Regions from separate parts of the Homo sapiens genome. Here all the other regions are linked to region 3. Evidence: fine-mapped expression QTL. A gene starts in region 3. Each other region holds a variant in brackets. All regions are shown on one strand. Distances are between the middles of the regions.

Region 1 (8,436 bases), 26 kb before region 3:
CTATCTACACAGGCAATAGAGGAATAGCTAAACAAATATAAAACACAGGGGGCCCTGCTGTAAACCCAGGGGCAGGCTCCACCTCCCTTCGACCCTGGGTGGACCCATGGCTGGATAGAAGGAGGCTGCATGGAGATGAATGAGCCTTCCAGCTTAAAGGCCCCTTTTCAGCAGAGAGCCAGACTCAGAGCTACCCCAAGTCCTCACCACAGCCCCATTCAGTATAGGGCAAGAAAAACTTCCCTTCACTTACGTCAAATGTAAAGATATGACTGGATGGCTTTATTTTATCTGAGGAAGGGCTGTAATCCTGGGACCTTGTTCTGGGAGGAAGCAGACAGTGAACACACACAGGCTGTGGAGGGTGTGGGTGGCTGCTGGAACAACTCCTACATTCCTCCATAAACTAAAGATGGCCGAGGGTAGAAACCACCCCTTTGATTATGCAGCAAGCTGAACTTGGCCTCAAGGAGGCTCTATTGTCAAGTTACAATAGGCATAAATTCTTCACCATGCAGGGTCAGAGGAGGGTAGCAACATTCTAAAGGGTAAAAAAATAGGCCCACTTGCTGATTCCCCCTAACAGTCCAGCGAGGCGGAGGGTCCCATGGTGCAATCGCCAGGGGATGCTTTCAGCTGGGTGTGAAAAGGAAAGTGCCCACATTCTCATCAAGCCTTGCTCAGCACTGAGGAAACTAAAAGGGCTCCATAAATGTTAATAAGCATAGTGGCTGTCTCTCCACAAAAATTTTCCCTTTTCCTACAATGATTTTTCCACTGAAAATGTAAAAGAGGGTGCATTCTGCTCCCCTGTTTCAAAGGGGTGACAGGAAGTCAGGAGGAGACAAATGCTAGAAATCACTCTCATCTGTGCACCTGCCAAGGCTGGAGGGAAGACATTCAGCTCTACTCCCAGAGTGGTGGCGGACCCATCCAAGGTTCAGACAGCCGGTTAATGACAAAACAAAAAAGCACTACTACTACTAATAGTAATGGCCAGTATTCATTAGCCACTTAATATATGGAGCAGACACCGTGCTGAATGCTTTACATGCCAGGGATCTTTGCACCCTTCTCATTTAAGCCTCAGCTTCACACCACCCTCTCAGGGAGATCCTTCCTGATCCCTCTAGCTGATAAGGCCACACTTATGGCCACCTCCCTCTCTCTATACCCTTCCCATTTTATCTTCTCTGGAGCATTTCACACCAACTACTTTATTAGCCACATATTCAGCCTGTTTTTGTAGGACCCAGGGAGCTAAGAATGATTGTCATATTGTTTAAGGGTTGTTAAGGAAAAAAAAAAAAAAAAAAAGAAAATCTCTAACGCAGCTCCTGCAAAAGTATCTGCTTCAGGAAGTTGAAGGATACACTGAGCCAGTGCACAGACAGTATTGCATAATGCTTAGGAACATGGCTTTAAGTCCAGGCTAAAATCACCCTCTAGCTGTGTGACCCTGGGCAGGTTACATAACCTCTCTGTGCACCAGTTTTCTCATTCATCTAGTAGAGAAATAATAGTACCTGCCTCATAGGTCCTGGTAAGGATTACACATCAGGTGCTCAAGAATACACCTGGGCCAGGGGGTAACTGCTAAATAAGTGTCAGTCTTTTTTAACCCAGAGTGAGTGTTCTGTAAGTAGAACCTTCCCTTCTTCCTTTCTTTTTCAGAGCAAACTTGAATTCCTCCTGGCTCCTCAAGAGACAGTGAGTGGAGGTCTTAGGGACATGTTTTCATAGTACATAAAGGACAAGAGCATCTCCATCCTGGGTCTTTACATTGCAACCTCATCTGAAATCAGGAAGATCAGATCAGCTGGTTACACACCATTATCAGCAGGGCTCCTGAGTCCAAACCAGACAGGAGGATGAACATCTTGAACCCAAAAAGCAATCCCAGGAGCATTTCTCCACCCGCTCCCACACTGTCTCCTTTCACCATTCAGCTGAACAGGGCACAAATATGTTCCTACTTAAAATCAAAACTCAGCCTCAAGATATTCACACTTCAGCCTTTATGAAATTTGACTGTTCATCCACTTGTTCTTTTTGAAAACCTACCAAGTACCGGCTACACAAAAGGGAGCCAGCGCGACTGCTCCAGCCCTCAAGGTGGGAGGTGGGGTGGGGAGGGTACGGGCAATAAGCAAAACTCACACCAGTAATTACATAATTACCCTCATGGCCAGGGCTACCAAAGAAATGCACAGACATGCCCGGCATTGCGGAGGAAACCTCCTCTCCAGTTTTCCTCAATTCTCACATCTACAAAGAAACACAGAGGTAAGGAAGGGGCCCAGCAGGAAGAGATTACCAAATGTCTGAAATCACACACCCTCCACCCCTAAAAATCCCATTTGTTCCTGTACAAGTCAGAGAGCCTGAGAGGAGGAGGGAACTCAGGTGTTTGAGCCCGACTCACAGTACAGCCACATTCATAAATGTTCCCAAGTCTAGACAGTACCATGTGCCTTATAAAATGGTCTGCTTTTAAATAAGGCCACCTTATGGTTTAATGTTTAAACCTTCTGCAGCAGCAGGTTTGGTGGAGAACCTGTGAATCCCGCCCTGCAGTGCCTGCCTGTTTCAGAGGCAAACTCAGCCCAGCCAATTCTGTTACATGCAACAGGCACAGCCTCCTCTTGAGGGTTGGAGGTTTTTCCTTTTTTGAATAATCACCAAAAACCACCTGCTCTGTGGCCTGCTGGGCATCCTCTCCCACATTGGCTGCTGTGGGTGTTCAGAGCTTGGTGACCTAGGAAGGGCTGGGGGATGCAGAGTAGAAGAGTAAATGCTCAGACTGTCACCGGCTGGGTGACCTCAGGCAAGCCCAAACTTCCCAGGTCTCGGTTTCCTCACCTGTAAAATGGGGTTACAAAATCCTGTTTCTTGGGGTTGTTGTGAGGAGTGGAAACTAGGTAAGTAAAGGCCCCAGCACACAGTATTCACTGAATGGCAGTGATTATAAACCACACTTAAGAGGTAATGAGCCCACAGCAAATCATATCATAGGTCTCTTGGCTCCTCTCCACCCCCACACATATCCTCCCCTCCCCACATTTGCACAGTGGCAAAAGCAGGTTAAAATTAATATCCGGCCAGCCCCAGGGTGTCCTGGTGTCTTATGGAGAGGACGCCTGTGTAGTGTAGGACCAGCCTTGGGGGCGTGGCAGAGAGTCTGGGCAGGTTGTATGTCGTCGAGGCTCTAACCAAGAGAATCCCTGCCCTCCTCCTTTTGCAACCATCTCCCTGCATGCTCATTCATTGATATAAGCTGGACTTCAAGGAGTATTCTTGAAGTGCCTCTCAAATAGGAGTCACCCATGCATCTTGAAAAAGTGCAGATTCTGAATCCATAGGTCTGGGTATCCAGCCTGGGATTCTGCATTTCCAGCAAGGTCCCAGGTGATGCCAGCCCCAGGGACCACACTTGGAGTAGCCAGGTCTTAGTGCTTCGTCTTTGACCCTCAACATTTTTAAATCAGTGGCAATATTCTTAATAATAGCAATAATTAATATTTCTTAGGTGTTAATCATGTGCCAGTGGACCTTATCTCATTTAAGCCTACCTACAATCCTATTTTACAGATGAGAACATTGAGGCCAGGAAAGATAAATATTTCCCAAAGTTACATAGCCTGTAAAAAAAAAAAAAAAAAAAGTGGAGCTAGAATTCGAGCCCAGAGGCTGCTGATTTTTAAGGCTATGAATAAAGTTGGGATGAATAGAAAACATCACAGGGAACAGAATCTCCTGTAGGATCCGAAAGGGTCCCTAAAGCCTAGTGAGATGGACCCCCCTCCAAGCAGATGAAGTTTTACAGGGTCATATGTGAGGTCCCAAAAGGAGGGACTGGAGGGCTGAGCAGCAGGGAAGAAACACAGTCATAAATATGGCATTAGCATCACTTAGTGAGAACAAGTTTGCATCCTAATCCCAGCAACACGAGCTGGCAACTTCCCTGCCATTCACAAGGTGTGATCTCATACCCAGGCACGTTCCACGGGAGCTGCAGGGCACGAAGTCAGAGGCAGCTCAGGGGATCTCTCCTTACCTAGGAGCCCAGAGGCCGCCTGCAGCAGGAGCAGGCAGCCAAGCCCGGCTGGAGGCTGTAAAGTGCTCCTGCTCTTGCCTGGGAGATGCACAGAGTGTGGGGCAAGGCACAGCCCCACCGAGGCCACACCGGTCCAAAGCTCCCAGGATCACCATGTGGCTTTCACTCAAAAAGCCTCTGGCCGAGGACAGTCACCACGGTGATGCCACCCATCTTGCAAACAAAGCCCCTAATTAATTAAATGACCCCGGGCTCTTTATGGAGGGGCCTGGCCAACTCAGAACAACACCCCAGCAAGTTGCTGTGATGCAACGGGCCCCATGGGAACCAAGCCAGCTCTGCCTGGGGGCCCATGGGCCTCTTCTTCCCTTCCTCTTTAGCCTGTTGGTTCATGTCCTACATGAATGTATTTCAGAAAGAAATGGATTGGAAGCCAAGAGTTGTATCAACAGGCTCTGAGGCGAGGCACTGAAGCCAGGGAGCATGGTATGTGTAGCTAGGAGCTTTTCCTTCAAAGAGTGGCATCCCCTCACTGGCCCTCATCAGCCCTTTAATGTTGTAAGAGGTTCTGAAAATTTAATCCTCTGTAACTTGGTTCTCAAACCTCTATTTCTCAAAATTCTACATAAAAGAGATGATGATTCCTGTGATGATATTGATTTCTCTCCTGCCATAAAAAATGCATTCTATTTTCAGAACATAAAAAACAAAGCAGATTCGTGCTTGACTGGGCCTGGGCCAGCTCAGGAGGACCTCAGGGCTGGGACATTTTTATCTACAGGGACAGTCATTCCTTGGTCTCTAAGACTCACCCCCACCCCTCTCCCCTTCAAAGACTGAGCTAAGAATGTCATTGCAAGTGGTGATGCCACAAGGGAAGTGGAATTAATGACTAAGAAACCGTGGGCAGATTCACACTCCCTGTTGAGGTTTGTAAACATAAGATACAAACCGTGGCTGACCAGGCAAGAACCAAAGAAATAGCAAAAAGGCCACCGGAAAGTTCGTGCTGAGTGGGCATGCCAAAAGTGAGCCACAAACCCGCCTGAAAAGGACAGTCAGAGACTCTAGAGCACTATCTGTCCAAGGGTGGTGAGCAGATCACCTGCCTCCGATCCCCTGGTTAGGGGGAAAGGGGAAACTGATTGCTAAAATGCAGATTCCTGGGCCCACCCCAGAGCTAGTGAATGAAGGTGGCAGTGTTCAGGGTAGGGGGCAGACCTGG[T/C]ATCAGCATTCTTTACAGCCTCCCAGGTGATTCTGCTGCACTCTGAGGTTTGAGAGCAGTCACCTTAAAGCAGGGTAAATGTGGCCCTGACGACACCTATTGTTCTGTAGCTTAAACAGGAAGCAGTTATATTACATACTAGATGACTGATGAAAATTAATGAACCTTCCATTTATACACAGAGGAATTAAACACAGGCTTCCTTGAGGGGGCTCAGTGACTTGAATTAATTTACCCCTGGTAAATGGAAAGTTTGCTTCCAATGGGTATCTCCCTAGTCCCAGCCCAAGGAGGGCCTGTGGATGAAGTGATGCCAGGGAATGTGGGTGTGGATGGGTTACTTCACAGTCTACACATAACCCGGAGCACGAAAAAGCCTCTGGTAACACAAGAGACGCTAACACAGACAATATCAGATTCAAAGAAAGACTGAAAATGCCAGGCCATTTAGCTGAGACTGGAGTTGCCAAGCAGCTGTTTATTTTTGGACGTTCACGTCTCTGAAGCCAAATGCAACACCAAATCAGAATTCTAAAGTGCAACTGTTTTTCTTCCAGGTTACAATTGCCCTGGGAAGGGAGAGAAAGGGCTGGGCCAGAGGGCTGAGGTTGCTTACAACTTGGACAGCCTCAACTGGTAGCATCTGATCACTCTGACACTGTTTATAACAAGGCTTGGATAAGCTTAAGGTTGTGCAACTTTTATTTATCAACCTCCAAACCCAGAAGAACCCGAGCCAGTACTGCTAAGAAATCCAGCATCTGCACCTTGGGCTTGTCATCAGTCACAGCAACCCAGCCAAGGCGACTCCTATAAGGAGAGGGACTCGGATAATCACGCCACCGGCTCAGTTTCCTCACCTGCAAATGAGGATGATGATGGTACCAACCTCACAAGGTTGCTGTGGCAACATGGCAGATTGTGTATATGATGGAAGGCAGAGAAGGCAAATAGTACCTACGGCAGAAGCCAAAATGAGGACTGTTATCATGAGTAGATGTTAGAGCTGTAAGGACTTAGAATGCTCTATGCCAATCTCCTCATGTTACAGATGGGGAAACTGAGTCCCAGGGAGGTTAAAGTACATACAGGCCCCAAGTTCACGAAGTTATCAGCAGCACTGGAATTGCAACAAGAGAGTCCTGATTCCCACTCCAGGAGGGATAAACACTCTGAGCAAGGGGTCCTTCCTAATCAAATACTAAGCCACAGTGAGCAGCAGGGCTGAAACTGCCACAAAAAAAATTCAACATTTACATGGGAGGCTGGCTCCAGTCACAGCCAAGTCCCCAGAACTGTTGCATCATTAATAAACCGAGATGGGAGTGGCAGATACTCTTCAGGGTGCTGACAAATCATGACTTGTGCTGCAGCTTGGTGTATTTCACCTCCATCTAATGTCTGTCCTCACATAGCTATGCCAGAGACGCTGTTTTCAGTTCAGTTCTATCCAAACTTTCCTCCAATTTCTGAAGACTGATTTAATATCACCCATGAATACGCATACTTGGGAAGTTTTCATCCTATTATTTCTTAATTCATTGCAAACACTGCTATTAAATGATAACTTCAGGCCACTACTGAATCACTAACCTTGGGGACAATGAGCTAGGAACACAAAAACCTAAGAAGCAAAATTAGTTTTCCAAAGGGAAAGGAAATTAGTCAGTTGAGTTTAGCTGATCCAGGTGAGCAGAACCAAAAAAACTTTTCTTCATTTCTTAATATGGTAAAATACAACAAGCTAAAAAGAGGCATGACTTTCTATCTTATTTTATATTCTAATCATGAATGGTTTTATAAATAAGTGAAAGAGAAGATTCTGCAGAAGTTATTTTTATCCAGACAGAATCTCTTCTGTTTAGAAAACTGATTTATAGCAATGTACAAGACCTATCAGATAGGGCGGGAGCAACCGTGCAGGCTGCAGTCCGTCCCCCAAAGCCTCTGGAGAGCACTCAGGAGCCCCCGAGGCCTCTCTCATTATCTCCTCACAAGCATCTTTTTCCTTCCAAGAGAAGCTCTCATTGTCCATTATTCCTAGAGTTAAAAGGCTGGTCCCTCCTCCCCAGCCCGTTGCAAGATCCATCGGGAGGCTTGTCATCTCCCTCATTAGTGCTCCACAAGCCTGCCTGCTGGGATGCTCTTGCTCATTGCAAATGCACAGCCCCAAGAAACCGCAGGCTGAGCTGAGGAGTGTGCTCGGCCCCAGACGAGCATTTCCTGCCGTCCCATCATGGGGATGAGCCTCGCCCAGTACTCAACTCTCAGTTCCTACCCTCAAGGAGGCTGGGGCAGGGGTCTGTGGTCATCTTGGAGACCCTAGTTGTGCCCTGGGTTGGGGAGTGTGCTCATGCCCCTAGACATGGCACCTGCCATTTTCTCTGCCAGGATCCTCCACATCCTGTCCTCGCCATTAACATTTTCGGTTGACCAACTCCTCTGCATCCATCTGCTGCAGACATGGCCCATCCCCTGCAATGACCCCTTTGCAGATATGGGTCCCCTTTTATAACCTCGCTCACCATTGCTCATAAGCTTCATTTGCACGAAAATCATTTCTGTTTTATGCACCACGGCATCTCCAGTACTAAGCATGTGCCTAATGTACAGTATATACAAAAAAGCTGTTGCTAAAATGGAGCCCAAGTATTAAGAAGGACCCTTGACAAACAGAAAACCATAGTGGGACATCTGATCATTCCAGCCAACCTAAACCCCAGCCATCTGCCGCTGAGCCTTCTTTTACTTGCTCACCTTTCAAACGTGGAATCCCTTCTTGTCCCAAAATCACTGAGCCTGAACTTCCTCATCTTCCAAATGGAGACAATAACAGTGCCCACTCCAGAGGGGTTGGGGGTGATTCACAATAAAAGCTAGCAGTCATAATAATTACCAGTTATCAAGCCCTCACTATGTGCCAGGCCCTCAGTACCTTTCTGTTAAGCCTCTCAACCTCTCACTCATTAAATTCTTACAAAAACATTATTATTTCTGCCTTCTCAATGAATATAAACTGAGTCTGAGGGAAGTTAAGTAACGTGCCCTAAGGCACATAAATAAATAGGAGGTCTGGGTCTCCATACGCTGAAAGACCATACTCTTAACCTCTGAAGCACACTGACAAAGCAATCAGCACAGTGCCTGGCACATA
Region 2 (10,896 bases), 71 kb before region 3:
TTTGGAAAGTCAGACTTTTCTGGCATGGATCCTAAAACACTACTATTCTGTGCACAGCATCACTCTCTAATGTTTGATACTAGGGTAGGGTTTGATGTCACCTGATATTATGGCCAGGATCCAGGAACTCTTCAATCTTGCTCTATGATGCACCTCTCCTTCCAAGAGCTTTCTGGAGGGTCTATTTACACAAGAAACAGTGGCAAAATGGGACTCAAGATACTGTCATTCTAGGCAGAGCCGTGAGTGGCCTTCCCCATTAGGAAATCGTGACCCACTGATCTTGGACTCTGATTAATCCCAATCAGATTAGCAACTTCCTGCCCTTGGGATAGAGGGGAGTGCCTAGGGAAAGGGCAGGCACAGGAAACTGAAATGTGGAGAAAGAGCGTGGCTGAGTGTTAGCCTTTGATGACGTCTCCAGTTCAGAACTAAGGAACCTGGTGAGTAGTCTCTTTTGGAAACCAAGACTGAGAACATGTAAATTTGGAAGCTACGGGATAAGCCAAGGTGGGTTCCACAATCAGAGAGAAGAAAGCCAGGCTATAAAAGGAGAAGAAAGCTGATATGCAAAGAGAAGCAGAAAAGAGGGTATACTGTCCTCTTCAATCCACCACTCCAATTCTTAATTCCAGCGGCACTGCAAGATGCATTTCCTCTTCTAAGAACTTCGAATAAATTCCCTTTTGTGCTTAAGCTCATTTGGGTAGGTCTCTGTTACTTATATTGATTCTGTCACTTACTTGACTAAGAAAAAACCACCAAATAAAGAAGCAAGGTCTCTGGTTCAGTTCATTGCAATTTATTTAATTTAAAAATAAAAACAGAAACAAAAACCAAAATGAAACAAAAATCAGTTTCCAACGAAAATACAAACACTTTGGGTGGTTATCCAGCTTGTTTTTCCCCTGTAGGCTGTTCTGGGCTCAAACCAATCAAATGAGTGAAAACCAATTTTGACAGGAGCCATAAAGCATGTTGCACCAATTAAATTACACCAATATATTATTATAATACCTTTGAAATGCCTTTCAGACCAATAAATAAAAAAGACAAATTCAAATAAAAAAGTCAACTTTTTATTACCAAAAAAAATAGAAATTAAATAAAAGTCACAATGTGGATTTTTTTTTTTTTTTAATGTGCAGTCAAGTTTCTCTCTTTTTTTCTTCTAGGAATGATACCATGCCAGTAAATCCCTACAGAACATTTCCAGTTTGGCAACAAGCAGTCAGTCGATCATTCACATTTGTACTCAAGACAGCAGGCCTGGGCAAAACTCGCCTGAATTTCACCCTGAAAAGTGCTCCCCATCATCTGAAGAAGCAGCACCTGGTAACAGGCATGGCCATTCAGAGGGTACTTAGCATTTTCATTTCACCTGGGGTCTTGAAGCACTTCCTGAAAACTGATTGTGCCTTGACATTTACCTGTAAAAAGAAGTGTAATTCTACCCCTTTGGCAGATGTGTAAACTAAGACGGTGCAAGGCCCACAGAAGTAAGGAGAGGACCAGGAAAGCTGACAGTGAATCTCCTGCTTTGTCCATCAGGTCCTAAAAGTGTCTCTCACTTGTAATTCCACAGAAGTGAATAAAGCATAACTTCTTTGACTGGGATTGGCTGGTAGGGATGACAGGACTTAATGATGAAGCAGGGAGCTGCTTTAATGGCTTTTCCCTCTATTGCAAGTTTTTCCTTGAAAGGACAGTCAACACCACACCTAGAATCAGAGGATGTTGGCAGAGTGTCAGAGCTAAGCGGGGCTTCAGGTACCAGCTAATTCATCCCTCCAGCCCTCACTGGAAGGAAAACTTAACCCCTGCAAACAATGCAGATGCCTAAGGCCACCTATGACTTAACTCAGTCTCTGCCTCTGAGTGGAGGACTTTCTCTGCCACAGTCCACTGGCTGAGTTTCCTGACAAAAGAGAACACGTGTTTGGGGGGAGGAAGAAGGGAGTAGACTGACTTTCCTCAATAGTGTCATTTTTACTTAAAGACTAGAATGATGGAAACTACTAAACAGACTCAATCACTTGGCAAAAGGAAAAAACACATCAACCAGTAGGTAGGAGCTAGATCTAAGTCATACTGACAGCTACGGACACGGCCAGCTGCCGTGCACAAGGGGCCAGCAGGGCAGCAGCATAGGCTGTTCAGAAAAGACTGCATGAAATGAGGCAGGAAGTAGGGAGCTCAGAGTTGCAGGTTGTCCTCCATGCACCCACACCCCCACCCCCCCCCACACACACAATTTGCTATCTACAGAATTTTTTTTTTCCCTTTTAACCTCTATTAGAGTTCAGGAAGGAGGTGGAATTGAATGAAAGGAAATTGAGCAGCTTCCCATAACACACTGCTCAGCTCAACCTGAAGGAACGCATAAGCCAAAACACCAGAGCCGGTGGCAAGGGGAGAGCCCAAACTGTCTCCTTAAGGAAAGGGCAATTCCATTCTAATGCACTTTCTTAGCACTGTAAGGTGAATTTTTTTCTCATCTCCCTAGAACTATTGTTTGTTGGTTTTTCCAAAGATGTTCCCAAGACCAGTCCTCTTTTCTATCTACACGTCTACCAGTGGTGGCCATCTTGAACTGAGTTCAATTTGCCTTGGCCAGCAGAATCTGAAGTCATCCCAGAGACCAGGAAGTACAAACCTAGTATCATGAAGGTGTCCCATGGTTGGAGTGGCATCTTGTCATTGTGATCTGGGTGTTTAGAAATTACATATCTAGTTTTTTGTTTTGTTTTGTTTTGTTTTGTTTACTTTTTAAGATAAGAGTCCTGCCGCACCTCTTTTCTGTCTCCCCCAGAACCATCTGGGTAACATCTAAGGAAATGTTCCCTCTCTTACATGCTTCCTCCCAACCCCCTGCACTCTTTCAACACCTTATTCATTTAAATGAATGGAACTTTCTCTTCCCCCAAAGCCCAGGAGTTCATGGCAAAGTTTAAAACCATGACATAGAATACTTAGATTTGGGGGAAAAAAAGCACCATCTACCTGATTTTCCTTTCCTCATCCCAATATCCCATCTACATGCTAACTCCCTAGAAGCAAACTTGCCTACCTCTGAGGATGCTACACTCAGTGGATGGGGAAACCATCTGTCACTGGTGAACAGAGCCAATGGTTCAGCCAGGTAATCCTCTGGAGAATATGGACAGTATCACGTCCAACTCAAAGCATCCATGCAGGTGAGAACCCAAGAGGCAGCATTCCAGTTAATATTGAGAAAGAAAGTGACAAGTTGCCTCTTGTTGGTGTGCATCAACTTCCATTCATCTGTGCAAAGATCACAGACCATCTTGTGCCCTGTCATATATAATAGTTTTGACCTCTGACACCATCATCTTTCTCCCTGTCCACCCTCAAGAGGTTGTGCTGTAGAGCAAGGCAGACATCAGGAAAGAGGAGGTGAACAGCAAGGAGCTAAATCACCATGGGCTGACTCTATGTCCTTAGCAGAGTTCAGAGCATTCTCTCTCTGACCAAGGCCCTGTCTTTCCTCAAAGTTGAGTAGCAAATTAACAAATGCCTCACCAGTGGCATGAAAGAGTTAACATAGATCCCACAGGATGACTAAACCCGATTCCCAGGGCCTAGCCAGATCAAAGATGACAACTACATAGCATTAGTGCTACTGCTTCCCCTTCCCTTTCCCGTGGTAGCCATTACTAGTCAATCACAGCACTCCTTCCCCATGATGTGGGCCACTTACGCCAGCACAACTGGCAGCCACTATTAATTGATCGTCAACTCAAGCTCAAGTTGCTGAAATCTACTTGCCAGCTCCACGCAGCCAGACCTAGCTTGCTAATACAAGGAGAAAAGGGGCAAGTTCTTTGGGCTCACCCAAGGCAAACAGCCCAAGTGTCTCCTGCCCCTCCTCCAGAAGCATCTGGATGACTTCTAAGGAAATGCTCCTTCCACATATGCTTCCTCTCCACCCACTGAGTGCCGGTCAATACCACCTCCCCTGGACAGCTGGTCCTCTAGGAGGTGCCATAAAGCAAATGCCAAACAGGGCCCAAATTCTGACTGACAATTGACAGAACTGGCAGAAGAGCCCACCTCTCCCTTTTAGGTGTTGGCTCAAGGCTGCAAACTTGGCCAAGTGAGACAGTGCCAATCCTTTTTCAGTCTGTTGTCACAGCCAGCAAAGAGGTAACCAGCCTGTGAGCCCAAGTCTTGCTCCCCTTCCTCCCTCGTACCCCCGCCCGCCCCTGGGCGCCCTGGAATGCTAGTTGAGCTTGCTGCAGATCTCCAGCGCTTGCTTGTAGACCTGAGTCACATCATCCATGTCTGTGAGGAGGGAGAAGCTGCTGTCTGCCAGCCGGTTCCGGTACCGCTTCAGGTACTGGGGCCGGGGCCGGTTCTGGAGCCCCTCAAAGTCCTGGATCTGGAGGAAGTTTTCTGCAGAGACGCAGCTGCGGATGCGCTGGCGGGCAGGGCGATTCTCCTGCAAATCCAGCAAGTCAAAAGAGTCGCTGGACAGCACGCTGTCATCGCTGATGACACTGGAAGGGCGGCTGTAGCTCCGGGAGAGGCCCTCGGCAGGGACACCAGGCTCTGACAGGGATTCCAGTGTGGGCATTTCAGGGCTGACCAGGGCTGGGTCCATGGTGCCCGCTGAGTATTTGCTGCTGTGTTTCAAGATGCCCTTCCTCCGGCAGGAGAGGCTGTGGGAGGTTACCCTGGCTGGGTCCGGGGGGCTGGGGGAGGGGATGCTGCTGCCCATCACATCATTACTGTCCAACAGCTCCGAAGACTCACTGCGCTCTGGGGAAGAGTAGTAACCTGATTCTCTCTGCTGGGTCTTTTTCAAGATGCCTTTCTTGGGCATCGTGGCCGACTGCTTGGGGCTGAGTTTTCCCGGCACCTCTGCCTCTGGTGAGCTTGGGAGGAGCACGCCAGTCCTGCACAAGTCCTGCTCCATCTTGAAAGTAGAGGGTAAGGCAGGACCAACTACACCTTCAATGAAGCCAGTGCTGTGAGAGCGATGCTCGCTGTTGCTTCGCTTCTTCAGGATCCCCTTGGGCCTCTTAGAACTCAACTTGGATGGGCTTTCAGGCACTGCATCCTGACCAGACTGAGCAAAGTCATTCTCTTTCTTGGATTTCTTCAGCGACCGCTGCCGCTCTAGCATGACCTCAGAGGTCGTGGGTTTGGCCAGGCCCTTCATTTTGGCTTCGGTGTCAGCCTGCAGCCCTGTGGAACGGTGGTGCCAGTCAATGATCCGAGCCAGGAGTGGGGACTCAGAGTCATGGAGGGCATCACAGTCACACACGCTGCTCTTATAGCCCCAGTTCACCCACCAGTGGTTGGCAATGTCCTCAATAGTGGCCCGGCGATCGGGGTTCACCATCAGCATCCACCGTATGAGTCCTCGAGCATCTAAGGGACAAGGGACAAAAAGAATCGGGCATTATGTGGGAGCTTCTGGCTTTGTGATAGTGGGACCCTCCAGGAGTGACGAAAGACACACACTCCCTCTAGGACAAATCCATCTGGAGACCT[G/C]GTCCAGCCACATTATGGAGCAGGAAGCCCCAGCCTTTCAGATCATCCATCAAAAGCATAATCAAGACTTGGAACCACAGGCCAGGGTGCCATCACATCATGGCATGTTTTCCCTGTAAGTGAGAAAATGTCATAGAACTACTAAGCTTTTCATCATCTTGAATCTTTAGAAAATGTGGAAGGTCAGGTAACCAAGAAAGAATCCAGACTTGACCCTGAGAGGTGCCCCACCATTCCTTTGGCGAATATCATTTTACCAGAGGAAAAACAGGTGTAGATAACCATGGCTTTCTTTATTCCTCCAAAGGTGGGCTTGTATAAACACACAGCACCTGCAGTCACTGGGAAAGCATGCCAGAGACAGAACATGGAGTGTGGCTCAGAGGCACTTACCTGGAACACCTGGGCAGTAAGCGTGGCCATCTCCAAAGCTGGCCTCGCCCCAAGGTCCAGGCCAGGTTCTGAGACCAACACTCAGTGAGCTTGCCTTCTTTCCCTCTCTGACATAAGCCATCTTCTACTGAGCTATCAGATCAGAGAAGTGATCTATATCTGCTTCCCATTCACAGCCTGTCTGGAAATTCTACCTGCAAATTTCTGCTGCCAGAGAATTAGGGAAAACCCCTAAAGGGATGCTGAGAAGGCCACAGGAACCAACTGACTCTCACAGCTTATAAACTGACTTTTAGGTTCAAACTGTGTTCCCCCAATTGGGGTGAATTATATTCTTGGAAGCTGCCACCTCCCCTCAGCTGCTTATGTAAGCGAATGAGAAGCTGGCAAAGGCCTGGTAATAGGGACTGGGGCAAGAAACACCCCTGAAAAGTACCAAGATGATCATCCTCAGTCATTCAATAAGTATTTCTTGAACGCCTACAATGTGCCAGGAACCGCATTGGCATCAGTTAGCTGGTGAGGCAAAGAAGACCACTTTAGAGGTCACTCTGAATTTTTCCAAAAAGAACAGGCTGGCTTGTTGAAAAAATTATATATAGAGAGAGAGATAATGCATATCTATATATACACATACAACCGTCTAGCCTGATTATCCATAGAGTCTGTATTTGCAAATTTGCCTACTTGCTAAAATTTATTGGTAACCTCAAAATCAATATTCGCAGCTCTTTTGCAGTCATTTTTGCATATGCACAGAGCAGCAAAAAGTTTGAGTCACCCCAACACACATATGTATTCACAGCGGAGGTCAAACAAGGCAACACTCTGCCTTCTTATTTCAGTTCTCATACTATTATACAAATTGTCCTTTTCTCAGTCTATTTAGTGCTGTATTTCTCACATTTTTTGGAATTTTTATTGGTGATTCCTCTTTTTAAATGCCTCCCTAAAACAGTGCTGAAGCACTGTTCAGTGTTCCTAAGCTCAAGAAGGCTGTGATGTGCCTTATGGAGAAGATAAGTGTCTTAGATCAGTTTTGTTTAGGCATGAGTTACAGTGCTGTTGGCTGTTGAGTTTGATGTTAATGAATTAATAATATAGATTAAATAAGGTGTCTTTAAACAGAGACACACATAAAACAAGGTTATATATCAATCAGTTAACAAAAATATTGTGAGCAGAGGCTCTCAGGAACCTAACCCTCTATTTCCCCTAAGAGCAATGGTTCAATATTCACAAATTCAGTGTTTGTAGCAACTTTGTAGAACATAACTACTATGAATGAGAATCAACTGTGTATGTGTAGGTATACAGATATACATATATATATATGCGTGTGTATAGTATGTATATAAATGAAGTGCCAATGTTAACTTCATTTGTTAACAAAAATGACCAATGATGGCCAGCTGTACACACTCTCTATACAGGCATGATATTCCCCATCAAGAGATGAAGCTCATGACCGTGGTTGTCTTGACCAATAGAACACAGCAGATGTGACACAATCTGGGTACAAGCATGGACATGGCACTGGCACTCCAGCCTGGGCAACAGAGCGAGACACTCTCTCAAGAAAAATTTTAAAAAAAGAAAGAAAGCTCGGCAACTTTTTATTCCTCCTTCTTAGAACCCCAAGCTGCCACTGTGGGGTGGCACCTCAGAGAGCACTGAGGAAGGTCCACCATTCAGCCCCAGCAGCAGCCCCAACTGCCATCTGCTTACAACTGTAGGAGAGGAAGGCCATAAGAGCACTTCCCAACCCACAGGGGTGAAAGAGATGATTTCATGGTTGTGTAAGCCACTGAGTTTGTTTTGTAGGGGCAGATGGGGTAGAGTTGTTACACAGAAATCAATAATGAGACAGAACCCATGAGCCATGCCCCATGCCAGTGGCACAGTAGTGAGAGACAGAGCAGTGGCCACCCTCACAGTATTTACATTCTCAGGTGAGTGGTTTCTATGTCTACTCAGACTGGGAGAGACCTCATCTAATATCTTTTCCAACGTTTTTATTTATGGTGGAGAATCTGAATCCAAAGAGATTAAGTGACTTGTCCAGATCCACAAAGCAAGCAAACAGGACTCCTAGAAGGTGTGCTCTGAAAATTTCCTTTGGGAAGGTTTGGGGAAAGCAGCCTAATAAGCCAGTTTTGCCAAGGATGACACTTCTGGGAAGAAGAAAGAGGAAAACCAGGTGACTCCAGACAGACATACTAAAACAAAAGCAGAAAATAAGAGTTGGGTAAGCAGATCTCTCTCCCCTCCACCTCTGACCCTCCCTCCACAGGGCACGCACCTGAGGGCTGTGTTGGCTCCCGGTACTCTCCGCTGCTGATTTGCCGAATGAGGTTTTTGTGATCGAAACCATCGAAGGGCATTGTTCCATAAACAAGAGTGTAAAGCAACACACCCAGGGCCCAGCTGTCCACCTGGAGCAGAGAGACAGCACATATAGGAGAGCTGGGAAACAGATCCCAAGATGCCTTCCAAACCATTAGCATCATAGCCTGTGAGCAGCCACCCCCAGCAGCCCCAGGAACTGAATTTAGCACCTGGAAGATAGGTTCCTAGTGCAGCCTGACACCTGACAGCAATGCAGCTGGGACCTGCTACAGAGCCTGACCTTTCCATTCTGAACAGAGGCCAGTGGTCCCAACTAGTAAAGAACTTTCTTAAACAGATTATCTTCTTTAATCCTCACTACAATTTTGTGAAGCAGTTAGAGCCAGGACTATTTTCAGCCCCATTTAAAAGATGAGAATACTGAGGCACGAAGAACCTAAATGGTTTCTCCAGAGGCCCTGCCCCAGTGACGGAGGTAAAACTGGGATGCGGGGCTCTTCATTCCTAATCCAGGAATCAATTCCTTCCTGCACTTTCTTCAAATGAATCAGGAATTACAAACTGAAATCTTAACAGATATACACAAAGCAAGAAAGAATTGGGGTTATGACATAGAGTGTTGGGGATGGAGACAAACTGTACAGTACATTCACCCGTCTTAGGCAGACAGCCTCTCCTTAGCTAATTGCTGCCATGTAGTAACATGGGCCCAGCACTGCTCGATTCTTTGGTTTTACAAGAGAAGTCAGAAACCAAACTTTTACATGAAATCTCCCAATTATTACATGTTTGTTCAATTTTTTTAATAAAAACTAAGGTGGCCAAATAAAGGAGTTTGCTGACCAGATCACAGACTGCTAGCCTGGAACCTCAAAAACAGGTCATCGAAGACCAAAATATTCATTATCTATGAGAAATTTCGTGTCGAGTTTCTACAAGTTTGTAAATTGAGTTCTATGCTCCTCCCTCACATTCTTATTTTAGAAAGACTTTCTCTTCATTGCAGTTAATAGATGGTCTTGGCATCCTTCTCTTTACCCTTCAGCCCTGCCCCCAAACACTCTCAAACACATAAATATTTGAAAGAAAACATTTCAACACACTGAGCAGCTGCTATTTAAAGGATACTGAGTGGATGAACTCTGAAAAGAGAACCATCTTTCAAAAAGAGAATCATCACTCACAACTCACTCATTTTCAAAATAAAATTTCCATATACCCATATCTTACAGTGGCCCTTGAAAGCGCTAGCATGTAGGGAAATGTATTTCTCATGAATTAGAAGATGTCATTAAAATGTATTTCCTTAGTCAGATATGCATGCTGCCAAAAATATATACAAAAAAGATATTTACCCCAGAGTGAGGCAATTTTTTGTTTGTTTGTTTTGTCTGTTTTGATATAATAGGGAAAAAACTAAATGTTCACATCTAGACATTACTAAATAAATTTTGGTATATTCATTGATAAAATGTCATTAAAATCATGTTTTTAATAATGAATTTGGAAATTGCCACAAGATAGTTTTCATAGTAAAGGGCAAGATATACATACGTGTGTCACATACATATGTATATCTTGCCTTTTATTAACTTGATCTCAATTATTTTTGAAATGCAGAGATCTACATTGGGAAAAGTTTAAAAGTCACTAGAGTTTTAAGTGATTATCTTTTCTAGGGGGATGGCAGGTACCTTTATTTTCTCCTTTAGGCTTTTCTGGGTTTCCCAAATTTCCTCCCAGGAGTATACATTAACTGCTTTTATAATCGTATAAGGAAACGTTTTCCTTGCTGGCTTTTTTAGGCTCTGTTTTTTTAAGCATTTCTCGAATCCAGTTTTTGCCCTTCCTCCCTCTTCTCCCTCCCCTCCCCTGCCCCATACACATTGGGAAAGCTGCTCACCTCTGGCCCTCGGTAAGGTCTCCCATTGACAATCTCAGGAGATGCATAGAGTGGACTCCCACAAAACGTTTGTAAGAACTTATCCTTCTGGTACAGGTTGGAAAGCCCAAAGTCAGCAATCTACAAAGAGAAGCAAGACCCAGGGAGACTTGTTAGCATTCCAGATTATGTCTGTGTTGGATCAGTTCACACCACACAGCACACAGAGTGGATGAAGGGCACCTGGGTGGGTCTGCTGGCTGGATCGCCATTTTCTCTCCAGCCCTGAGTCTTCATAAAGGACCACTCAGCCCAAGCAGGTCAGTGTTTCCTAGCTGCAGTCCTTGGCATCCATCACAAGTTCTACCAAATCTGCAGACTACAAGCTCTGCAACTTACTTAGAAATTACTCTTTAAATGGATGCTCTATTTAAACTTTAATTTAGACTTGCTTTGAGAAATAACATTCACAAAATCACTGGCTTGATGTTTCTGATGAACATTAAAGTGTGTAACTATTAATTTAAGAATTCTCCCTCTGTGGTCTACCCAATTATGCTGCATCTGCGGTGGTGTGCATATCACACTGCGGAAAAACCCTGACCTACACAACTGGTGATACCACCTCTGTATCCACTCACACCCTGATCAGAACTGTATTTTGCCTGTCTTGTGACTCAAGATGAAATGGACTAATTGACTCACAGCATTGGGTTTTGAGTCATCATATTTCAGTCCCAACTCTGCTCCTA
Region 3 (10,896 bases):
GTGGGCGATCACCCCATGGCTGCTCTTCTGGCACCATTAGCAAAGAACCACACCCAAATCCAGAGGTCACCAGCTGTGCAACATTAAGGAAGGTTCTCAATTCCTCTAGCAGCATTGGGTTTCCAAACAAACTCCATCCAAACAAACAAACACCATCCAGCTGTCTGACCCTTGGCAAGTTACCTAACCTCCCTATGTGTCATTTTCCCCATCTGTAAAATGGGTCTCACTATTTTACACCTCACAGGGTTGCTGTGAAAGTTAAGTGAGGGAAAATGTCTCTAAAGCACTTAGCACAGTGGGATGCACCACAAGCTCTCAAAAATATCAGCTGGTAGTAAATAATGGTAGCAGTAGAAATATGATTCTGTCCAGGATCAAACTCACTTTCATGAGCTAAGCTTCAATGAACTGTTGTCCAACTTGAAAATCACCTGAAACAATCCTCTATGGAAGAGTTACTCATGCCTAGTAACTACTTCTGCCTTCTCTTTCACCAGGCTGGAAGCTCCCTGGGTCTTACTCATTTCTATGTCTCAGCATTTAACATGGTGAGTAGCACATGGCAGATGGCAATAAATCTTCATCGAACTGAACAGAATTAGTTTGCAAGTACATTTCACCTTTGCTACTAGATTATAAGTTCTTTAAGAGTGAGGCCCATGTCTTTCTCTAGTAAAGATTTATTAAATGAGTGATGGAAAAATACCAAACCAAGAATCGGGTTTCTAAGATCCAGCTCCGTCATTCAAGACCTGTGCAACCTCAACAAAGTCACTTAACACTTCTGCGCCTTACTGGTCCCACCTCGAAGATGACAAGTTTGAACCACATGTTTGCCATGGTCCCTTACACTCTAAAACTGTATTTGGGCCTTAGCTGCAACATGGCACTTCTGCCACCGTGCATGTGACGTCAACACACCTCCTGGCTTGGCAGGCCAGTTTGCTAATTTGCCTCCCTGATTTGCAGTTTTCCAGCAGGAGGCTATGAATAGCTTTGGGTGCTTAAAACACCCATTTTTGGTCAAAACACTTGGCTTGCTAGGTGAGGATGCCCCATCACCCAAGCTAATGCTCTAGTGGCCAGGGGCACCAGGGCAGACTGTGGGGGAGGGGCACACATTGCCCACCAGTCCTGCCACTCCCATCCCAGACTCCCCCCCAGGGACCCTGCCTCCAGCTCACACCACACCACCTACTGCTCACTAGAGATAACCTGGTACAGTGAGGAAGTTGAACTTGGCCCCTTGACATCGAGGTGATCACAGGACATAAAATTGTGTGGCTTTGGTTTTGGGATTTTTGGCAACGCTTTGTGTGGCCTGTAGGTCCAGGGAGCTTAGCTCAAAGAAAATGCATGCCGAATTATGACACAGAGGCTCACCCAGTAGGCCTGCCCAAAACTGTATCAAAACCAAAGTTGTGCAATAAACAAGGCCCAAATTCAAGACTTGAGAAATGTGTTCAGATCCTATCTGAATCTGGCTAATTATCTCATCTTCCTATGGACACACCTCCCTAATTAATTTGGTATTTATTTTATTACTCTGAAAAGTTGATTATTTCTTCTATCTCTCTCTGCATGATACAATGCATTGTCTCTCTGATGGTCTTAAAATCTAATGAAATCCTAAAATGAGATGAGAAAAAAAATCTGCTAAAAGGAGGAACTAAATTGATTAATGTCCCCTTTTGAGGTTTTATATAGATCACTGTATTCAGTTCTCACAAGTCTATGAAGTTGGTACTCTTAGTAGCTCATTTTACCGATGAAGAAGCTGAGGTTTCAAAAAGTCACATAGCTTGCCAAAAGACACAAAGCTAGTAGGGGATAGATCAAGGATTTGAATGTAAGCCAGGGCTCTTTGCCTTTCTGCAAGAGTGCCTCATTTTTGAGCTTGTTCATCTCTGGAACAAGCCACTCTGAGTCCTGGTCTCACGGACATGCTTTAGCAGAGGCTGCAAGACTGCAGGAGAGTGCCTGGACGACACACAGGGTCGCACCAGCTGACTCCAAGCATCTCATTCTGCACTTCTCTTCAGAACTGCCTTTCGCGGCACATAGAAAATGATGCTGTGTTGTGTTTTGTTTTATTCAGAAGGTCCTTCCAGGTATGCAATTAAAAACCATCACATCCTCATTTTTTAGAAACTTCTCTCCTCTCTGAGAAGAACCCCTGCTTTCAACAGGGATGTTGATTTCACAGCATTTCATACAACCCCATACTCGGCACCTGTCTTGGGCCACTCACATTAGTAAAACACGTTAGAACCACTGCTCCTCTTGAGAGATGCTGTAAAAGGCACTGGTGCAAATGAAAATAAAACATCACTTCAAAATTCTACCCAAAGATCAAAAGGCTAAATTAAGATAGTGCCCTTTCAGTTCTCCTCAACTGCACCTTCAAAGCATGTTGTGAATGTTTAGCACATCGCTGGTACCAGAAGAAAACTCCAAGTTCATATTTTAGATGAAAATGTCTTACTGCTCTTAACAGGTTCTGAGTCACCAGGCACTGTATGGGCAAGAACAACTCGTTGACCAATTTTTTGTTTGTTTGGTGTTATTTTCTGTTCAGCCAGTCACAGGAAATTTTCCACTTGACAATTCCTGTTTCTCACTAAAGTTCTTAACACCATCTGTGAGCAGTGTGCTCAGCAGGGGGAGGACGGGGGGCCAAGGAGGACTTTCCTTCCCCAAACCTCAGTTTTCCCATCTGTTTTATGCAAGGTTTTTACCCAGGGATCTGGCTAACATTCTGTAAGCTCAGCTATCAAGGAGAAAGCAGCCCCATGAATAAACGAAGCATTTTAGAGACTGTCAGTTTCTGGGCGTGGGTCTGCTGCCAGATTTAAAATCTTTACATAATTTTGGGGTAAAACAAGAGATTTAGCTGAAATTAATAGCACAATGGGAAAATGAACTAGGGCTGAACAATAACACAGCGGGACTTCAGATTTGCGGCTGGTAAAGAAGCCTCTCTCGTTCTCAGGGCGCCCCCTCGTGGCCGCTTGACTAAATCCTGACGGAATGTTCAGTTTCTGCAAATACAGAGAAAGACATCCCCCAAAAGAGAAAGGCGGACTCCTGCCTACTGATGCAAATCCCTTTCACTCTAACCTAGTCTGTGGATCAGACAGCTCAAGAACGCCTGACAGGAAGTCCCACTGACGCTCAGAAAGGCGTCTGCCATAAGACAAGGGTTCGTTCGTTAGAAAGGTCTGAGGTAGTGCCCCAGCATTTAGACTTTGGGGTCCCTTCACAGACCCTAGACACACCCTTACCACTTCAACAACCCCTCATAGCCTCACATTCTCAACCTGCAGCTCGAACTGCGTCTGTTTTTCATTATTCTGCTTCCCACCTTCCCAGTGCGATTCTTCAGCAGCTATTAAGACAACATGAGCAGGGATCTAAGCTTAGTTTTTGCTTATTCAACATCCAGCCTGGGGAATATCACCTCAGAAGAAAAGCATGAATGAAGTGCACGTTTCCCAGCCTCTTCTTCCACAAACCTGAAATTGCCTTCATCAGAGGCCACCCTTACAACCCTCCCCTTTAACAATTTCATCCTACGAAAATGGCACCTGCCCAGAGTGAATTCTCAACTACTTGCTTGCTGTAGAATTTATTACAGAGCCAGCTTTAAAAAGAAATGTACGCCATCTCAAATTTCCAATTAATTGATAACAGATTTTTTTTTAAAATAACGTTATGGGACGAAGTTATATAGACCCAAACATCAAATCTGAGAAATGGGTTGGGAGGGCGTTATCCGGGTATCCAGATATTTGAGAATTTGGGGACTGAACTTTGCTGACTGGCACCCCCATGTTTTTTTCACAGAACTGTTCCTGCCGAAATGCAAAAGAAACATGTCAATACTAAGCTGCTATTTTATTTGACAGCTCATTTTCCTTTTTCCCTGCAGTCATTTGTTGTTTATAAGCAAACCTGAGCCTCCAAAACACCCCCAAAAGTGCACACAAGGAGTCCCATAATCAGTTTCTGACTTTGGCCCTAAATCGATTAGAATACATCTGATCTGCTTCAAATCAAAGAACCATGTTAATTTTCTGCCACACACCACACAAAATCTTTCTGCAACAGTCAGTCACTTTGAACCCAACTCTCTAGCCACAAGCAGTGTGGATTTCAAGGGCCTGTTCTGCAGAAGTGAAAATAACAACAAACCAAGGCTGGGACAAGGCAGACAGACCCCAAGGCACTCAAAGCACTCCTTGGAGCTGTGCAAATGGTGCCAGGACCCTGGCAGGGTGTCAGCTGTCACAAGAGCAGCGGGGCCAGACCCCTTCAGCGGTTTGGTAGCCCTGCAACCAGGAGCTGAAACACAACTGAGCCTGCTGCAACTAAGCACAGCTATCTCTGTAGCTACCCATGCCCTGGACATTTCGGTCCTCCCAAAGCCATGATGCAAACTGTTAGAATCCTCAGGCTTGCAGTAGTCTTTATTTTTGCTCCCTAACCTTGTCTCAAAAACAGGCAAGAGTCGCCCTCCCTTGCAGTCACAGCAGTATCAGGGCGATGCAGAGTCTGAGTGGGAGGATGCAGAGCAAGGAGCTGCGGGCAGATGGGTGGAAGGGGGTAGGGACACCTACAAAACACCGGACTTGAGGGGCTAGCTCCTAGCTGGGAATGTGGTTCTTTGGAGAGTTGTGGAAATAAGACGTTTCGGGGCATGGTCTAAATGAGTGCCTGCGAGGGAGAGAGACCCCGGCCGTCCCAACGCTGCAAAGTGTTTGCAAATCTAAAACATTCCTTTGCTGCTAGGATTAAATTTTTAAAAACAAACCAAAAAATAAAATAAAATATGTGCAGACAGGATGTAACAAGTGTTTCAGGACAGAGACACGCCTGAGTCACGGGGTGCTGGAGAAAGAGTGAGGAGTCTGTCTCGGGGCTTCCCAATGAGCCCCCTCTCTGTCAAGAGAGCCCCAGGGCGCACAGACCCCCGCCTCGCACGCCCTCAGTCCCCGGCCGCGTCCACCCAGCGCCCCCCGCACCCTCCAGGATTGCCCCACTCACCACTCGGCCAGAAAACCTCTCGGTGGCCCGCTTGACTTTGCCGTAGGTGCCTTTGCCCAGGGTCTCCTGCAGCTCGTAGCGGTGCTTCAAGTTGTGCTTGTGGTGATGCCGCTTCACCCCGTGCGGCTTCCTGGGCTCCAGGGCTGCAGTCGCCCCCGCCACCGCCTCTCGGGGAGAGCCCGGCGCCCCCAGCCCCAAGTCGGGGCGGTCCCCCGCCACAGGCGCGGCGGCCCCTTCCATGTCCAAGCGCGGGGCGAGCCGGGCTACAGAGGGCAAGACCGGGCACAGCGCTGGGATGTCGGGGTCCCCACCGAGGGAAGCCGCTGTACGCTCAAGGTCGCCCCCGCAGCATCAGGGAGGCGGCCCGATACCGCTCGGACTGCGGCTCGGTCACTGGCGGCGGCGGGGACTGCACATCTGGCGCCCGCGGCGCGCACGGTCCGCGCACCGCCCCCCGGCCGCGGCGAGCTGTGGAGCGTCGGGCGAGGTGGCGGCGGTGGCAGGGGAGGCGGTGGTGTTTGCAGGAGGGAGGGGAGAGGGTGGCTCGCAGCGCAGGAGGGGGAGTGTTATGTGGGGCGCCGCGCCCCCCAACCCCTCCCCGGGAGGACGCGCAGACGGGGCGGGGGCGGCGCTCGCGCGGCCCCAGGGGAGGGGGAGCGAGGGGCGGTGCAGCCAGGGCTTCCCCCACCTCCCTGCAGCCACCCGGGGCCGGGGCCGCCGTGAGCTGGGAGGGGGATGGGAGCGTGTCGCGACTCGCCCTTTGTGCGGCGCGGCGTAGGCCACGGCGGCGGCGGCGGCGGCGGCCAGGAGTGCTTTGTCCTCGCTGGGCCGGAAGGGACCGGGAAATTCCAAGCCGGGCGCCCCCTCCCCGGGCGCTCTCGGGCTCGCCAGTCGCAGCTACCGCGGGCCCTCCGCCGCCTCGGGCTCCGGGGCCGGTCGCTCGGCCTGGATTCCTGCTGGCGCCGGGGCGGCGGTTGCGGCTGGCCGAGCCCCGGGGCCGGGGAAGAAAGAGCGCCGCGAGCCGGGGGCCGCCGGGACCTGCTCGCGATACGGCCGGGGCCGCCGCGGGCCTGGGCGCCCCTTCATTTTCTTGTAGGTGTCGCCGCAGCCTGGCGGCCGGAGCTGGGGGAGGGGGCAGGGAGGCCTGGTGTTCGGTTACAGGCGGTGACTCACGGACCTTGCCCGCCCGAGGCTGGCACCCCGCGGGGCAGAGCTGCGCCCGCCTGGGGCAACTCCGAGTCCAGGAGAACCCCAAGAGCGGCGCTTTGGCCCCGGCCCCCGCGCCCTCTCCGAAGAAAGGAGAGTCAGGGACGGAGGGAGGCCGGGAGGCTGAACCCCGGGCCCGCCGTCGAACCGCCGGCCCTCCGACACCATCTGGACCCCGGCGGGGACAGCCGCCTGGAAGGGGAGGAAGGCCAGGGACGTGGAAGAGATGGGGCTCTAAAGGCGCCGGGACGGAGCTGGCTCCCCAGAGGCGCCCACCCTGCCAGCGAAGGCCGCCATCGGAGGTGGGCAAACCAGGGACCTGGGGTGGACCAGGACCCCGGGCCTGCTGAGCAACCCGTTTGCTGAGCAGGAGGCGATTTGCAGGCCTCTTGCCTCCTTAGGCCTTGGGAGATTTCCTTTCACTGAAAGGGCCAGATCCTGGCGATGGTGACAGGAACGGTACCCCGCACGGTAAGGGTCAGGCAGGAAGGGCCTCCCACCGCGGCGTGGCTGCCGCCGTTCTAAGAAGAGACCATGAAAAATAAGGAAGAAGGCTAGAGAAAAAGAGGTCTTAGGGAAATTTTTTTTTTTAACAAGTGGTGCAATGTACCAGACTAGGGTGGGAAGAGTGAAGGCTGAAGAAGGTCTGGTGTTCTGCAGATCGCATGGCGGTTCTTTTCCACCAGTGGACCTCACTGGGGCCTCCTCTGCAGCTCTCAGGTGCAGCCCTTCCTCTACATTCCCGCCGCCTTCATTCCTGTCTACCCCTGGTCACCTTACCCCGGACTCCAGCAACAGCCCGCTCTCCCCAACCCTCCCCGGGAGCCTCCTCACTGCTGCCAGAGTAATGGCCTGAAACACTGCCCTCATCCTCCACACGTGTCTCTGCTGTACTCTGACGCGTGATATTCTTACCTGTCCAAACTTTCCTTCTACTGATATTTCACACAAACTTCCCTGCCCCTTCTTCCCTTCCCCAGGAGCAATGACAGAACACAGACACAAAGGCGCATCATGCCTATTCAATTCCTATTCTGTCCACCGCATTTGCAGGGCCTCCCTGCCACCCACCCCCATCCTGAAACTGTTCTGCTTCTATACAGTTTGTGGACGTTGTGCCTATAGATCCCACAGTCAGGATGAGTGGCATGCAGGTTGAGTCCTGGCTTCCCAGAGGATTGGCTGTGTGGCCTTGGTCAAATGACATAACCTCTCAGAGCTTCGGTTTTCTCTTAAGATATGGATTTAGCAGATCTATTGTAGAGATAAACACATTGTGTCTACAGTAGTATTTTAAAATATTTTCTACTTCTTCCCCTCCCCTGCGATGTGGTAGAAATCCACTACCCCATCCTCTTGAAGTTAGATGAGACCATCGGACTTGCTTAGGCCAATGGAATGAGAGCAGAAGTGATTGTGTTGCTTTCACTTGGAACCTTTAGGAGCCAGTGAGCAAATCCCCATGTCTTCTTTTTCCTATCTTGACAATCATGGTGGTACAAAGTTGGAGCCTCCCCAAGCCAGCCTGAGTCTCTGTGTAAAGATGGCAGAAAATCCCAGCCAATCTGCATTGGAAAAGTAGTGTCAGCAAATATTAAACTTTATTTATGTTAAGTCAGTGGGATTTGTTAAAGCAGCATAACCTGGCTTATTCTGGCTGATAGTGTTACTCCCAGATATGTGGGACTTCATCAGTATCTATTGAATCAACAGCATCATCTACCATAGGCTGGTACTGTTTTATGACAGTAAACCCTCCTCTGTAAAGTAGCTGTTTACAATCCCTATTTTCAATTGAAGAAACCGTATCAGAAAGGTTAAGTAATTTCCCAGAGGTTACACAGTTTGTAAATGGCAGGACCAGGATTTAAACCCTACCTGTCCAGTTCCAAAGCTCCCCCTTCTCCTTTCATATATGCCATGCTCCGTCTCCTTAAATGGGAAGGATGAAAAACACCCAGTACAATGCCTAGCACACAGTCATGCCCAGGCACTGGGAGTTCCTCTCCAGACTGAATTCCTACCACGTTTATAATTGGAACCACACTTCAGCACAATGCTATCAGGCATTGTGTGTGAATGTTTTCACATCGATAAAGCATTTTCTCCAACAAGAGCCCAGGCTCCTTGATTAAGAGCTTCAGATCTAGAGGCAGAGTGACTAGGTTCAAATCCCTGTTCCACCTCTTATGATCATCTTGGATAATTGTTTTCCCCCTCTATGCCTCAGTTCTCTAATCTGCAAAGTGGCGATGGTAACTTTCATGTGCGTCTGTGTGAAGAGACCACCAAACAGGCTTTGTGTGAGCAATAAAGCTTTTAATCACCTGGGTGCAGGCGGGCTGAGTCCAAAAAGAGAGTCAGCAAAGGGAGATAGGGGTGGGGCCGTTTTATAAGATTTGGGTAGGTAAAGGAAAATTACAGTCAAAGAAAGGGGGGTTGTTCTCTGGCGGGCAGGGGTGGGGGTCGTGAGGTGCTCAGTGGGGGAGCTTTTTGAGCCAGGATGAGCCAGGAAGAGCCAGGAAAAGGACTTTCACAAGGTAATGTCATCACTTAAGGCAAGGGCCGGCCATTTTCACTTCTTTTGTGGTGGAATGTCATCAGTTAAGGCAGGGCAGGGCATTTTCACTTCTTTTCTGATTCTTCAGTTACTTCAGGCCATCTGGGCGTATACGTGCAAGTCACAGGGGATGCGATGGCTTGGCTTGGGCACAGAGGCCTGACAGTAACAATGTATGTGGTATTAGCAATTACGCCAATAACACATCCCACAGGGTTGGTATGAGGATTAAGGGCTAGACTATATCCACTCAATAAATCGTGGATATTAATACGATACTTTTCATCTTCCATAGCTCCTACTAGAATTTGGAGCCTTTTTTTTTTTGCGATGGAATTTCACTCTTGTCACCCAGGCTGGAGTGCAATGGCACGATCTTGGCTCACTGCAACCTCCGCCTCCCTAGTTCAAGCAATTCCCCTGCCTCAGCCTCCCAAGTACCTGGAATTACAGGCATGTGCCACCACGCCCAGCTAATTTTTTTGTATTTTCAATAGAGACGAGGTTTCACCATGTCGGTCAGGCTGGTCTCAAACTCCTGACCACAGGTGACCCACCTGCCTAGGCCTCCCAAAGTGCTGGGATTACAGGAATGAGCCACCGTGCCTGGCCTGGGGCAATTTTAAGCAGTTTAATCATACTGCTTGGTTAGACTCTGATTTCTGGTTTTGTTCTTGGATACAGGACAGATGTAGTAACATTGGCACTTGAAAGTGTGACATCCACACTATCCTACATCTTTTATTTACATAAGGCTCATTACTGGTCCTTCACTGCACTTTCTATTTTCAAAGCAATTTAAAAGAAAGAAGGTATGTTCGCTTTCTCAAGAAATCGTTGTTCAGGAATCCTGTCATTCAGGCAGCATAGATGAGCTTGGAGGACATTATGTTGAGTGAAATAAGCCAGGCACAGCAAGACAAATACCACATGTTCTCACTCATATGTGGAAGCTAAAAAAGTTAATCTCATTGAAGTAGAGAGTAGAATTGTGGTTACTAGAGGTTGGGGGAGGGGACAGGGATAGCCAAAGGTTGGTTAGCGAGCACAAAATTACAACTAGATAAGACAAATAAGTGCTCATCTTTGATAGCACTGCAGGGTGACTATAATTAATAATTTAATTGGGAGGATACAATAAATTAGTAATTTATATTGTGTATTTAAGAACATACAGTAGAATATTATATTGTATATATTCATTATTGATTGTATATATTTATTTATTGTATGTTTATAATTTATTGTATATAAATTATATACAATATATTGTCTATATTAATAATTTATTTTATATATTCAGATAGCTAGAAGAGCAGATTTTGAATGTTCCCAACACAACAAAATGATATATGTTTGCTATGTGAATAACCCTGATTTGATCATTACACGTTGTATGCATGTATCGAAATATCACACTGTGCCCCATAAATATGTACAATGATGTGTCAGTTAAAAATAAAAGAAAAAAAAGAAACATTTGTTCAGAAAACATAGTAGTAGCAGTCATTATTTATTTACTACCTACTACATTATTTATTTACTACCTAGGACCCCTACATATGCATATCGCCCTGCTAATCATCGTAAAACTGCAAGGTGGGTGTTATGTTGCCCATTTTGCTACTGAGAAATCTGAGTCTCAAAGAGGCTAAGTTGCCTGTGATCAAACAGTAACTGCAGTCAGGATTTGAACGCGAGCCTCCGACTCTAAGGCTTTGCTCCAACCCCTATCCCGAGCTCATGTCAATTAATGCCTGTGCTTTGGCTGATAACTGTTCTTACACTTTGCTAGATGAAGTTTTGAAAAGTTACCTAAGACTGTGATGTTTCTAACTTAAACATGTGGTCTGGTGGACAATTTACTTTAAATAGCAAGCTAAATAAGTGCTTAGTCTTCACTGTAGTGGAAGGAAGATAATTGCAACCAAAAATTCATGCTGCTTCATCCATAGAGCTGACAGACGGCTGCTCAGCCAGGGACAATGCCCAGCCTCCCATACATCGAAGTGTGGCCATGAGACTAGGTCTCTCTAATGGAACATGAGCAAAAGTGATGTTTTTTGCTTCCAATCCAGGGT

What was found. PIP is the estimated chance that this variant, and not a neighbour inherited with it, causes the effect.
Region 1: its variant is fine-mapped to the expression of NUAK1 in whole blood (TOPMed, PIP above 0.99).
Region 2: its variant is fine-mapped to the expression of NUAK1 in blood mononuclear cells (TOPMed, PIP 0.90).

What each region holds. Positions count from the first base shown.
Region 1 is chr12:106,108,258-106,116,693 of GRCh38, forward strand. The region is part of intron 1 of NUAK1 (NUAK family kinase 1); the gene reads right to left. Among named protein-coding and RNA genes, the nearest start is that of NUAK1, 26 kb to the right of the region's middle. RefSeq lists enhancers at 1-109, 110-854, 6,935-7,511, 7,512-8,088. The variant T/C (reference allele first, on the strand shown) is at 5,283.
Region 2 is chr12:106,062,559-106,073,454 of GRCh38, forward strand. NUAK1 (NUAK family kinase 1) reads right to left here. Exons shown (of 7, transcript NM_014840.3): 5 at 10,166-10,285; 6 at 8,216-8,348; 7 at 787-5,397. The coding sequence ends at 4,244. Among named protein-coding and RNA genes, the nearest start is that of NUAK1, 71 kb to the right of the region's middle. The variant G/C (reference allele first, on the strand shown) is at 5,521.
Region 3 is chr12:106,133,365-106,144,260 of GRCh38, forward strand. It overlaps NUAK1 (NUAK family kinase 1), which reads right to left and starts at 5,590. Exons shown (of 7, transcript NM_014840.3): 1 at 5,050-5,590. The coding sequence starts at 5,289. RefSeq lists enhancers at 1-758, 759-1,601, 4,019-4,520, 6,912-7,531.